Linked DNA regions of Homo sapiens: all the other regions are linked to region 2. Evidence: fine-mapped expression QTL. A gene starts in region 2. Each other region holds a variant in brackets. All regions are shown on one strand. Distances are from middle to middle.

Region 1 (4,239 bases), 74 kb before region 2:
ACTGCATTCATTCTTCAAAGCTTAATTTTGATAATTTAAGCATAAAATTCTCTCAGGCTTCTCCAAACTATTGTAGTACTTTATACATACTTTAATAGGACTTTTCTATTTTGCACCATCTTATTAGACGTGGAGGCAGGATCTATGGTTTGCTTTTTGTCTCTCTCTCAGCCCCTGGCCAAGTGCCTTGATCAATAAGGTGCTAAAAAAATATTAATTGAATGAATGGCTAATGACCAAAACTTACCAGACTAATTGAATTTATTTCAGTAGCAGACCTGGAAACGAGGAGGCCGTTGCAGGGATTCATTGATACAGTTGACTTAGCACCCTGCCTCTTAGTGCATTTGCATATGAGTCTCTAGAAGCCTGTTGTTCTCACAGTCCAGGATCTGAAGGCCTTGGAGACCAGCATGGGCCACAGGCATCTCTTTGTTTTGAGGATAGAACCGTGACAGGAAGAAAATTGACCAGTATTACACTAGAATTAATGAAGCTAGAAATGCTTTTGGCATTCTAGACCAGCACATGGGTTTGTTTTTACCCCTTTGCCTCTACAGGATGGAGCTGCAAAGGTGACCTGCATGGCTTGGTCCCAGAACAATGCCAAATTTGCTGTCTGCACAGTGGACCGAGTGGTCTTGCTGTATGATGAACATGGAGAACGGAGAGATAAATTCTCCACCAAACCAGCTGACATGAAGGTAAACAGTGTATTCATGTGTACCTTATTTAACCTATTGATGGGGTCTCACAACTTGAAAGACGTAGTCTGCCTTCTAGCCATCAGCATAGGAAATGGCATACCCCACCTTTTTCTCAGTATAAATCCTCAAGCTCCCTTAGGAGCACACATATGCCTTTTTTTCTCTTTTCTCTTTCATGTGTACTCATTACTTCTTTTTCTTTCTTTTTTTTTTTTTAAACTCTTAGTATGGCAGGAAGAGCTATATGGTGAAGGGCATGGCTTTTTCTCCTGATTCCACTAAAATTGCCATAGGACAGACTGACAACATCATCTATGTCTACAAGATTGGAGAAGATTGGTGAGGATAGAGACTGGGAGATGGGATGGCCCAGGAAAGAAGGGGAAGGCAAGAGAAATGCCTCACTGGGGAGGGGAAATACAGGGGATGAGAAGCCAAGCTTGGCCATTGAAGGCAGAGACTTTCTGGAGTCTGTTTTTGCTTTTCTGCCTTCACCTGTCCCACGTGTTCTTCAATCCCATCCCTGGAGGAAACAGTCCAAGGTCAACAGGAGGCCCTGTGAGATCCTGGAAGCCCAGAGTGATGTCACATCTTTGTTATTGTTCTGAAGCTGCTTAGGCTCCCTCATATACCTCCTTTCAGGGCTCCTACAGAGTAGTCAGAAATACTACTGGGCCAGGGAAGAAATCTGCTCTTTCTTCTCTTCCCTCAGCATCATTTTTGGCAATTTGTTTATGGAAGTGGTATTTATTTATTTATTTATTTTGAGATAGAGTCTCACTCTGTCACCCAGGCTGGAGTGCAGTGGCGCGATTGTGGCTCACTGCAAGCTCCTCCTCCCAGGTTCACGCAATTCTCCTGCCTCAGCCTCCCGAGTAGCTGGGACTACAGGCGCCCACCACCACACCCGGCTAATTTTTTGTATTTTTAGTAGAGACGGGGTTTCACTGTGTTAGCCAGGATGGTCTCGATCTCCTGACCTCATGATCCTCCCGCCTCGGCCTCCCAAAGTGCTGGGATTACAGGCATGAGCCACCACGCCCGGCCTGGAAGTGGTTTTTAATATGTTTCCCCTTCTTTTGTTTGGCAGGGGTGACAAGAAAGTCATCTGCAACAAGTTCATCCAGACGGTAAAGTTCAGACCAGTCCCTGGAACCTTAGGATGAACAAACATATATCAGTATATCTACTTATAAATACAGCCAGGAGTTGCATTTCTAACATCTGAATGTGACTTTTCCTACTGCAAGGATGGTGCTTCATGGCTGTTCATGGTCATCTGCTGTCTTCCTTAGAGCCCTGCTGTGTCCTTCCCTATAGGAGATTGAGGTGGTGGTGTGTGGTGGGGTGTTGAAGTTGTTATAAAAGTGCTGGCCCACACAGATGGGGTTATCCTTTTCATTGTTTCCTTCCACGCAGAGTGCTGTCACTTGTCTGCAATGGCCGGCAGAATACATCATTGTCTTTGGACTGGCTGAAGGGAAGGTAAAAGAGGGAAGGGAAACACAAGAGAGGGGGTGGTAGGGATAATGGTTCTGGAGAGAGGAATATGGTTCATCCTCTTTCTTAGGATCAAGTTGCGT[A/G]CTGGGGAGAATGCATAGGGACCAGTTTTGTGGGACAGTTTTTCCTTTTTTTCTTAGGGCCTAGTTAAATATAAAATAGCCTAACCATACTTGTATCAATTTTTCCATTTTCAGGTTCGTTTAGCAAACACCAAAACTAATAAATCATCTACCATCTATGGGACAGAGTCTTACGTGGTGTCCCTGACAACAAAGTGAGTAAAGAGGAGTAGTATCACTAGAGTCTGGAAGTGTTAGGAAAATGCTGTGGGGAAGTCTGGACTGCAAGACCATAGTATGAAAGGCAGGAGAACTGGTAGCAGGAAGCACAGACAAGGTTGTGTTTGACAGAGAAAGGGGCTTTCTTGGTGAGATAAAATAGTCTCTTCCTGTATTTCTCTCCTTTCTCCTTTTTTAGTTGCTCTGGGAAAGGAATTCTCTCTGGTCATGCAGATGGTACCATCGTTAGGTATTTCTTTGATGATGAAGGCTCTGGAGAGTCACAGGTATGAATAAAGAATGTTGTGGGAGGCTTGGATTGCTTGAGTCCAGGAGTTTGAGACCAGCATGGGCAACACAGTGAAACCCTGTCTCTACCAAAAAAACAAAAAATAAATACAAAAATTAGTCGGGCATGGTGGCATGGGCCTGTAGTCCCAGCTACTCAGGAAGCCGAAGTGGAAAGATCACTTGAGCCCAGGAGGTTGAGCCTGCAAGTGAGCTGAAATAGCACCACTGCACTACAGCCTGGGTGACAGAACAAGACCGTGTCTCAAAAAAAAAAAAAAAAAAAGATGCTGTGGAATAGGGGATAAGGAAATTCCAGGAGCCCTCCTAGAGGAGGTTGGACTTCTAAGGCATTTGGATTGAGATACTAAGAGAGGAAGCTAGAGGAGAACTCAGGGACAGAGAAAAAGTTGGATGTGGCCACTGAGAGGATTTGTGTTTAGGAGCCTGGAGCTTACTGCTTATAAGAAGGGATGAATTAGGTGAAAGGGACCTTGAGACAAAGGGAAATAAAAACTCTTAGAGTAATGAAAAGTGAAAATTATTCCCATTTATGTAAAATATATATATTTATGTATGTAGATTCATAGAAAAAAGAGTTAATAGTTTACTCTGGAAAGGGGAAAGGAAAAAGATGGGGGATAAAAAGGAAACTTTCATGTTTTACTCTATATAATTGTGTGTTGTTTGAATCATTTACATTAAGAATTACTTGTGAGCCGTGCCTGTAATCCCAGCACTTTGGGAGGCCGAGGCGGGTGGATCACCTGAGGTCAGGAGTTGGAAACCAGCCTGACGTGAAACCCGTCTCTACTAAATACAAAAAAATTAGCTGGGCGTGGTGGCACATGCCTGTAATCCCAGCTTTCTGGGAGGCTGAGGCAGGAGAATCGCTTGAACCTGGGAGGCAGAGGTTGCAGTGAGCCAAGATCGCATGCCATTGAACTCCAGACTGGGCAACAAGAGTGAAATGCCATCTCAAAAAAAAAAAGAATTACTTGTATAGGCCGGGCACAGTGTCTCACTCCTGTAATCCCAGCACTTTGGGAGGTCAAGGCGGGTGGATGACCTGAGGTCAGGAGTTCAGGACCAGCCTGGCCAACATGGTGAAACCCCGTCTCTACTAAAAATATAAAAATTAGCCGGGCATGGTGGAACGTGCCCGGAATCCCAGCTACTCGGAAGGCTGAGGCAGGAGAATTGCTTGAACCCGGGAGGGGAGGTTGCAGTGAGGTGAGAACGCGCCACTGCACTGCAGCCCCGGCGACAGAGTGAGACTCCATCTAAAAAAAAAAAAAAAGAAGAATTATTCGTATAATACTGAAATTTGACCCTCCTTAAAAAAAGAAGCCCTATGCTCTTTGTGGGCCCAGACGGTGTTGGTTAATGTGTAGCACATCTCCTTTTCTGAGGAGCTTTACCAGGTGCATATTAAAAATTTCCAATACATGCTGGGCGTGGTG
Region 2 (4,239 bases):
CATCTTTTCCACTTTCATGGCTTAACTCCAATCTAATATTTTCAATGTTTTTATATTAGTTGTCACCCTAAACTGAACCACTGTTTTCCCCCCAAAACTAGCATCCCCTCAAACTGCACCTTTTTCTGTTAATGGCTCCACCACATTTTGTTATGCAGAGTCAAAATCTTGGTGTTATTCATTCATTCAACAAATATTTAAATATTATTCAGCACATACAACTTTGCAAGGGATGCTGGAAAACACAATGGTAAGTTTAATGGAACTTCTGCCTTCATAAAGGCTTATATTCTATCAGGAAAGACAAACAAGTGTGGACCCAAACTAGTATAGTGATAGTAGAGATTTCCTGGAGAAAGTGATGGTCAAGAGGGGTGTGGAGAGGTGTGCTCCATGGGTAAAAGTGTAAGAGAAAGCATGGCTTTAGATGCACCCAAAGACATTGCTGAAGCAGAGTTGTAGGAGAAATGGAGAGTTAAAGAGAGGCATACGTGAATCTGGATGATTAGCATGAAGGGTCTTGTAAACTATAAGGAATTTGGACTATCGGAAGAGCATGAAGAAGCCATGATTAGTTTTATCTTTTTAAAGAATCTTTTTTTTTTTTTTGAGACGGAGTTGCTCTGTCACCCAGGGTGGAGTGCAGTGGCGCCATCTTGGTTCACTGCAACCTCCGCCTCTGGGGTTCAAGCTATTCGCCTGCCTTAGCCTCCCAAGTAGCTGGGATTACAGGAGCGCACCACTACGCCTGGCTAATTTTTGTATTTTTAGTAGAGACGGGTTTCACATGTTGGCCAGGCTGGTCTCGAACTTCTGGCCTCAAGTGATCCACCACCCCCCCTTGGCCTCCCAAAGTGCTGGGATTACAAGTGTGAGCCACTGTGCCCGGCTGAAAAGAATCAATTTTGTCATAGTTTGGAGAATTTCTCCTTTTCTCTCCATCCCTTGAATGCAATTTATTACCAAATCTGTCTTATTTGTTATTGTCTAATTTGTCCTTTCATCTGGATTCCCATTGCCACCCTGCGTGGTACCACCTTACTCCCAGCTCTTCTCATCTCCTGCTTAGAGTAAGAGCTCTCTAACTAGTAGCAGTGCCCCAGGCCAGGCGCGGTGGCTCACGCCTGTAATCCCAGCACTTTGGGAGGCTGAGGCGGGTAGATCACGAGGTCAGGAGTTCGAGACCAGCCTGGCCAACATGGTGAAACCCCGTCTCTACTAAAAATACAAAAATTAGCCAGGCGTGGAATCCTAGCTACTCGGGAGGCTGAGGCAGGAGAATCGCTTGAACCTGGGAGGCGGAGGTTGCAGTGAGCCAAGATAGCGCCACTGCACTGCAGCCTGGGCAACAAGAGCGAAACTCTGTCTTAAAAAAAAAACAATAGTAGGCGGGGTGCGGTGGCTCACGCCTGTAATCCCAACACTTTGGGAGGCCGAGGCGGGCGGATCACGAGGTCAGGAGATGGAGACCATCCTGGCTAACACGGTGAAACCTCGTCTCTACTAAAAATACAAAAAATTAGCCAGGCGTGGTGGCGGGCGCCTGTAGTCCCAGCTACTCGGGAGGCTGAGGCAGGAGAATGGCGTGAACCCGGGAGGCGGAGCTTGTAGCCTGGGCGACAGAGCGAGACTCTGTCTCAAAAACAAACAAAAAACAACAACACAACAGTGCCCCAGACTCTCTCCCTCCAATGTACACTGCATACAAAGACTAGACAAACGATGCCAAAGGTTACACCAGGACGACAATGAAGTCCAAGTCACTCATCTTGGCGCTTCTTTTTATCAAGCTAGCTAGTTAATATTACCACTTACAATCATTCTCCGAGTCCAGCCAGCTTCCTCAGAAATCCTCCCCAAATGCAGTTCACATTCTTCCCTCACTCCTCCAAACCTTATAACATTATTCCCTTTTCCTGTGGCATAATGCAATCCAGAGGCATCCTCTCTGAGAGCCTACATCCTTTCAATCCTCCAAGAAACAGCTCCTCCTCCCATCCTTGAGCTTTTCCCACCCAGAATAGGCTGTACCAAACATTTCTACATTGTATTAACTCGAATTATATCACAGATCGAGGTCTTCGCTTTCAGAAAAGACTCACATTCTTCTCATATAGGCCTCGCATGGCCTGGCCAAGTACTTCCTAAGCTCGGAACAAATACTGGTCAACTTTAATTGAACCAAATCGGGCGGGGTTTGCGGAGTCTGAGAGTGCAACGTTGGGGAGAGGGGGATGAAAACACTGGAGGACGGGCTGAAAGCGTCGAGTCCGACACAAAAGAGGCGTCAGACAAAACGCCAAGAGGCTGGGGACTGGGAACGAAGGAAGAGGTTCTGCCAGAGGCGACCTGCCACCTGCGCGAGGAAGCGGAGTAGGACGGCGGCCGTTGGTGGGCGTGGTCGCGCTAGTCTCGCGGGAGCGGCCGTTGGGCGGGCCGTTGTCCCTGCGGGCGGGGCGAGTTGCTAAGGAAATGACTGCCCGCAGCGCCTGGCCCCGCCGCGCAGGCCGGGCGGGGTCTGGAGCGGCGCCGTTTCCGCTTCCGCTCCCTCACAGCTCCCGTCCCGTTACCGCCTCCTGGCCGGCCTCGCGCCTTTCACCGGCACCTTGCGTCGGTCGCGCCGCGGGGCCTGCTCCTGCCGCGCGCACCCCCGGGGCTTCGGCTCCGGCACGGGTCGCGCCCAGCTTTCCTGCACCTGAGGCCGCCGGCCAGCCGCCGCCATGGGTGCCTACCTCTCCCAGCCCAACACGGTGAAGTGCTCCGGGGACGGGGTCGGCGCCCCGCGCCTGCCGCTGCCCTACGGCTTCTCCGCCATGCAAGGCTGGCGCGTCTCCATGGAGGTGAGGAGGCAGGGGCCCATAGGCTGGCCGCTGCGGGGCGGGAATCTGACGGAGAAAGAGAGCGGGGGATGGGGTCCTCCCCTGGGAAGGGTCCCAATTGGGAGCCTGCGGCCGCAGCGGCCGTTTGCGGGGCGACAGAGACCGCGGGGTCAGGGCCGAGAGGGAGCTCCCGATGCTTGGGGACCGTGTGCCGGTGGCCAGTGGCGGCGAGGGCTCGGCCATGTGGGAAGAGGCACCTTCCGCCCACTGACCGCCCTCTCCCCGAGCTTTGGCGCCATCCTCTCGTGCCAACCTAGCCCTCCAGGCTCATCAACGGTGTGAGGTTTAGTGTGGGAGTAAAGACGCAAATAGGGGCTATTTATTCATTTGTTTTTCAAGGGAGAGGTGAATAGATGTGAATAACTTTTTAAATTTTAATATTTAAAATATCTGATGTGGGAAGCCTCTTTTGGCTAGGAGTTTGACAGTGAAAGGAACCCCGGGCAGAGTCTGTTTCACATTTTGGTTGCCTGGCCTTGGGCTCTTGCATGTTAATTTCAGAGGCTGGACCCGACCTCCAGGAGTTGTCACTCATTTGCACTCTTTTCAGGGCCTTTTACTAACTTCGGAAAACTTGAATTATGTCAGTCCCTAGGTTTTCCTTTTTATTATGCTTCGTTTTCTTTCTCTCTTAGGATTTCTCTAAAACTTAATCAGTAATTCTCATTTGCCTGTAATTGTAGTTTATAGTTTCTTTGATTGTAAGTCATTTCATCAATTTTTTTCATCACAACCTACCTACAAAGGGCTTTTCTAGAAAATTTTACTCTGGACAAAAGGGGAAAAGAAAAATATTGGGGGGAAAGTAGTAGTATTAGGTAAAACTTGATGTGAAACTACAAAAGAGAAGAGGGAAAACTGCGGTAGGGAGGAAAGGGAGGAAGACGGGTTAACCGTGGCTTTGTGAAGAGCATTCTGAAGTCTAGGCAAAAGGGCCAGGGAAATACTCTGTCTGGTATTGAGGGTTTCTCCACCTACCGGGTGGGCTTCAGGTAACAGCGAAATACTGTCTCCCTTGGGAATTGTTTCAGATCCCTCGCTCCTCCCTGTGGTTAGCTCTGGAATGACAGTATGAACTTAAATGTTTTGTTTTCCGATTCAAATTTTATATTCATAACTGACCTTAATAACAATTTTATAATTAGGTATAAAATTTCAGGATTGGAGTGTATCCTATAGTTCATCTCATCTGCTTTGGCTCCCTTTTTTTTTTTTTGAGACAGAATTTCGCTCTTGTTGCCCAGGCTGGAATGCAATGGCGCGATCTCGGCTCACCGCAACCTCCGCCTCCCAGGTTCGAGCAATTCTCCTGCCTCAGCCTCCCTAGTAGTTGGGATTACAGGCATGTGCCACCACGCCT
Region 3 (4,239 bases), 110 kb before region 2:
GAATCTGGCGACCCCATTTTCATGACCATCTGTTGTGCCGTCTGCTCAACATCCACTCCTTCTGGTATCAGCACCTTGGTTTTCCTCTGAGGATCTATCGCTTCCCCATGCTCAGGTAATGAGGTTGGATTGAGGCTCACCTCCCAGCCCTTCTTCCACCACCATCCTGAAGGGAAAGCACATGATCCAGACTGGGCAGAGCATCCCTTGCTCTGGAGAACAGTGATTGCTTCAGGGACATGCATGTGTCCCAAGCAAGAGCCCCCAACCAGGCATTTGCAAGAACCACAGGACAGGCAAGCTCTTTGCCCACTAGTGTTGCTACGTAAATTGTCAGGCTGGCACTACTGGTGGCCAGTTTGCCACCTAATGGAAAAAACTTGCCTAAGAATGAGAGCAACGGCCGGGTGCAGTGACTCACGCCTGTAATCCCAGCACTTTAGGAGGCTGAGGCAGGTGGATCACCTGAGGTCAGGAGTTCGAGACCAGCCTGGCCAACATGGCAAAACCCTGTCTCTGCTAAAAAATATAAAATTAGCTGGGCATGGTGGGGGGTGCCTGTAATCCCAGCTACTCGGGAGGCTGAGGCAGGAGAATCAATGGAACCTCAGAGGCGGAGGTTGCACTGAGCTGAAATAGCACCGCTATACTCCAGCCTGGGCGATAGAGCAAGACCCCATCTCAAAAAAAAAAAAAGAATGAGAGCAACACAGGGGAAAACAGAGTTAAGGGTGGAAAGTTCTGGAACACATTAGATTCAGCTGCCCTAAGATTGTTCAGTTATATCAGCCACCATTTTCTTTGTTTAGCTTAAACCAGTATAAACTCGTTTTCCATCACGTTTGTAACTGAAAGAGTCTTGCCTAATAATTACAATTTCACAAACACACCCATGTGTGCACACACACTCCTTAAGGGGAAGATGCACCTAATAGGAGGAGCAGAAGCACACAGAAAAGGCAGCCTGTACCCTTGCACATTTCCATATCTCTACAAAATGCCCTCCTCTGGCAGCCTAAGCATTGAGGCCAGGTCCCACCCAACCCTGCCCCATCATATCCCTACCTGCAGCATGGCCAGCGCCCGCCAGAAGAGCTTGGAGTTGCTAATCCGAAGGTCCAACATGTGGTTTTGTAGGATCTTACCAAGAAGCACATGAGCACCTGTACTCACTGTATTCAGCACCCATTTGGTGCTTAGCTCACGCTGGAACTTCTGAAAAGGGCAGACACATGGGGGTGTCAAAAATTAGAGGACAGAAAAGCAGCAGAGTGAACAGGGCCCTGTTATCAGACAGGAAACCAACTGTCAAGAACCAGGGACCAAAATGCAAACATGATTTGTTTGAGCAGCCCAGCGTTTAAATGTTAGGGCAATAGATGTAAACCAGGATTGTCTCAGGCAAACCTGGTAGCTTCACCCATTTGTGTTTTTGACCCCTAGGTAGACAGACATGTTCTCTGAGTCCTTCCATATTAGAATTTTGATCCTGCTGAATTGTTCCTTTTTCTCCCCGGGTATCAGACAGGAGGAGTGGGATTCATTCCACTAAACCACAGGCTTCTTGAAAGGGCAGAGATGGTGACTTATTCTGCTCCAGGGCCCCAGTTTTTTAGACCATGACTGACACATATTTGCTGATCAATACATTTGTTGAGGCCGGGCACAGTGGCTCACTCCTGTAATCCCACCACTTTGGGAGGCCAAGGTTGGGGGATCACCTGAGGTCAGGAGTTCTCAACAAGCCTAGCCAACATGATGAAATGCTGTCTCTACTAAATACACAAAAATTAGCTAGGAGTGGTGGCATACACCTGTAATCCCAGCTACTCGGGGGGCTGAGGCACAAGAATCACTTGAACCCGGGAGGTGGAGGTTGCAGTGAGCCTAGATTGTGCCACTGCACTCCAGCCTGGGCAACAGAGTGAGACTATGTCTCAGGGGAAAAAAAAATGTTTGTTGAAAAATGAATTCTATTTAATTTTTCTAACAGCCCTACAGAATAAGTTTACCTATCCTCATTTCTACATATGAGGAAACTAGAGGTCAGAAGTAAATTAACTTGGAGAAGCTCATATGATAACGAGATGGAGAATGAGGACCTAAATCCCGGTCTTCTGATTCAATGATGAGGGCATTTCCTACTTTGCCACAAATATCTCCTGGATGAATGAGAGAACCTATGTAAAGGCATGTTGAAAACTAAAAAATTGTTCAAACATGTGGTATCGCGAGTATAAAACTGCCCCTTGTTTTTGGCCCTTATATCTTGTCCACCTTGGGGCACTTATAACACCTATTGGCACATTAGCAGGGAAACTGGGGCCCAGTAAAGGTGTTGAGGGGATTAATTAACTGGTGATATGGTTAGGCTTTGTGTCCTCACCCAAATCTCATCTTGAATTGTAATCCCCATAATCCCCATGTGTCAAGAGAGAGACCAGGTGGAGGTAATTGAATCATGG[G/C]GGGCAGGGGGCGTTCCCCCATGCTGTTCTTGGGATAGTGAGTTCTCATGAGATCTGATGGTTTTATAAGGGGGCTGTTCCCCCTTCACTTGGCACTTCTCCTTTCTGCCACCTTGGGAAGAAGATGCCTTACTTCCCCTTCACCTTCCACCATGATTGTAAGTTTCCTGAGGCCTCCCCAGCCATGCTGAACTGTGGGTCAATTAAACCTCTTTCCTTTATAAATCACCCAGTCTCGGGCAGTTCTTTAGAGCAGTATGAAAATGTACTGGCCAAGGTGGGCGGATCATGAGGTCAGGAGATTGAGACCATCCTGGCTAACATGGTGAAACCCCGTCTCTACTAAAAATACAAAAATTAGCCAGGCATGGTAGCAAGCACCTGTAAGTCAGAGCTACTTAGGAGGCTGAGGCAGGAGAATCACTTGAACCCAGGAGGCAGAGGTTGCAGTGAGCCTAGATCACGCCACTGCACTCCAGCCTGGCGACAGAATGAGACTCCATATTAAAAAAAAAAAAAAAAAAGGTACTAATACACGTGGTCCTAGCCAGGCTGAGGAAACAGGCTACTGCTACTTTTACCTCTTTATTCTGGAACTCTAGAAATAGCTGTTCACACAAAACCCTGGAAGAGGGTATATTGAAAACATTTTAATAAGTGAATGTCCACGACACTAAATATAAGAACAGCATGAAATTTCAGCATGAAACTGGCCAGTAAGTATGCAGTACTGATGCTATAGGGTGCGTGTCAGACTGCACTTTGGGAGAGAGGTCAATTAGATCTAGGTTATACCACTAACCATTGATACCATTAACATTAACACCATTAACACAAAAATATTTTAAATTTTACAAAATTTGGAGTGCGACACATTCATTTTAAAGTACACATGGAAAAATCGGCCTGGATATAGCCAGGAAAATCCTTAAAAAGAAGAATAGGCTGGGCACAGTGGCTCACGCCTATAATCCCAGCACTTTGGGAGGCTGAGGTGAGTGGATCACTTGAAGTCAGGAGTTTGAGACCAGCCTGGCCAACAGGGTGAAACCTGATCTCTACTAAAAATACAAAAGAAAATTTGCCTGGTGTAGTGGCGCGTGCCTGTAATCCCAGCTACTTGGGAGGCTGAGGCAAGAGAATCACTTGAACCTGGGGGGCGGAGGTTGCAGTGAGCCGAGATCATACCATTGAACTCCAACTTGGGCAACAGAATGAGACTCCATCTCAAAAAAAAAAAAAAAAAAAAAAAAACAAGAATGAAGAACAAACCCTATTGGATACCAAACATACCATAACGCCTCCATAATTAAAACATATGGTACCAGCACATCAATAGACAAACCAGTGGAACAGAATAGAAAGTCCATAAATAGACCAATGCACATAGAAATTGAGTATGTGACACAGATAGCATCCTAAATCACTCAGGAAAAGATGAACTTAAAAAAATTATATTGGAGCCAGGCACGGTGGCTCACCCCAGTAACCCCAGCTCTTTGGGAGGCTGGGACAGGAGGATTGCTTGAGGCCAGGGATTTGAGACCAGCGTGTGCAACATAGCAAGAACCTGTCTCTACAAAAAAAAAAAAAAAAATTTTGTTTAATTAGCCAGGCATGGTGGCATGTGCCTGTAGTCCCAGCTACTTGGGAGGCTGAGGTGGGATGATTGCTTCAGCCCAGGAGTTTGAGGTTGCAGTGAAATCTGATCACATCACTGCACACCAGCGTGGGTGACAGAGTGAGATTCTGTCTCAAAAAAAAAAAAAAAATA

Alleles and levels. Positions count from the first base shown, and alleles are read on the strand shown. Sizes are in standard deviations (SD) of each study's normalised expression. Not every link is listed here.
For the expression in subcutaneous fat of the gene that starts at base 2,552 in region 2, A is the high allele of the variant in region 1 and G is the other (small effect, 0.16 SD a copy in GTEx).

Evidence for each region. PIP is the estimated chance that this variant, and not a neighbour inherited with it, causes the effect.
Region 1: its variant is the best candidate, but not a certain one, in a credible set for the expression of PPM1G in subcutaneous fat (GTEx, PIP 0.65).
Region 3: its variant is the best candidate, but not a certain one, in a credible set for the expression of PPM1G in blood mononuclear cells (TOPMed, PIP 0.60).

The regions. Positions count from the first base shown.
Region 1 is chr2:27,481,825-27,486,063 of GRCh38, reverse strand. It overlaps IFT172 (intraflagellar transport 172), which reads left to right. Exons shown (of 48, transcript NM_015662.3): 2 at 561-704; 3 at 934-1,046; 4 at 1,798-1,837; 5 at 2,127-2,192; 6 at 2,405-2,484; 7 at 2,688-2,775. Among named protein-coding and RNA genes, the nearest start is that of IFT172, 5.8 kb to the left of the region's middle. The variant A/G (reference allele first, on the strand shown) is at 2,291.
Region 2 is chr2:27,407,904-27,412,142 of GRCh38, reverse strand. It overlaps PPM1G (protein phosphatase, Mg2+/Mn2+ dependent 1G), which reads left to right and starts at 2,552. Exons shown (of 10, transcript NM_177983.3): 1 at 2,552-2,840. The coding sequence starts at 2,721. RefSeq lists silencers at 2,382-2,571, 2,662-2,851, 2,922-2,971, 2,992-3,071.
Region 3 is chr2:27,515,764-27,520,002 of GRCh38, reverse strand. GCKR (glucokinase regulator) reads right to left here. Exons shown (of 19, transcript NM_001486.4): 17 at 1,066-1,215. Among named protein-coding and RNA genes, the nearest start is that of SPATA31H1, 20 kb to the left of the region's middle. The variant G/C (reference allele first, on the strand shown) is at 2,466.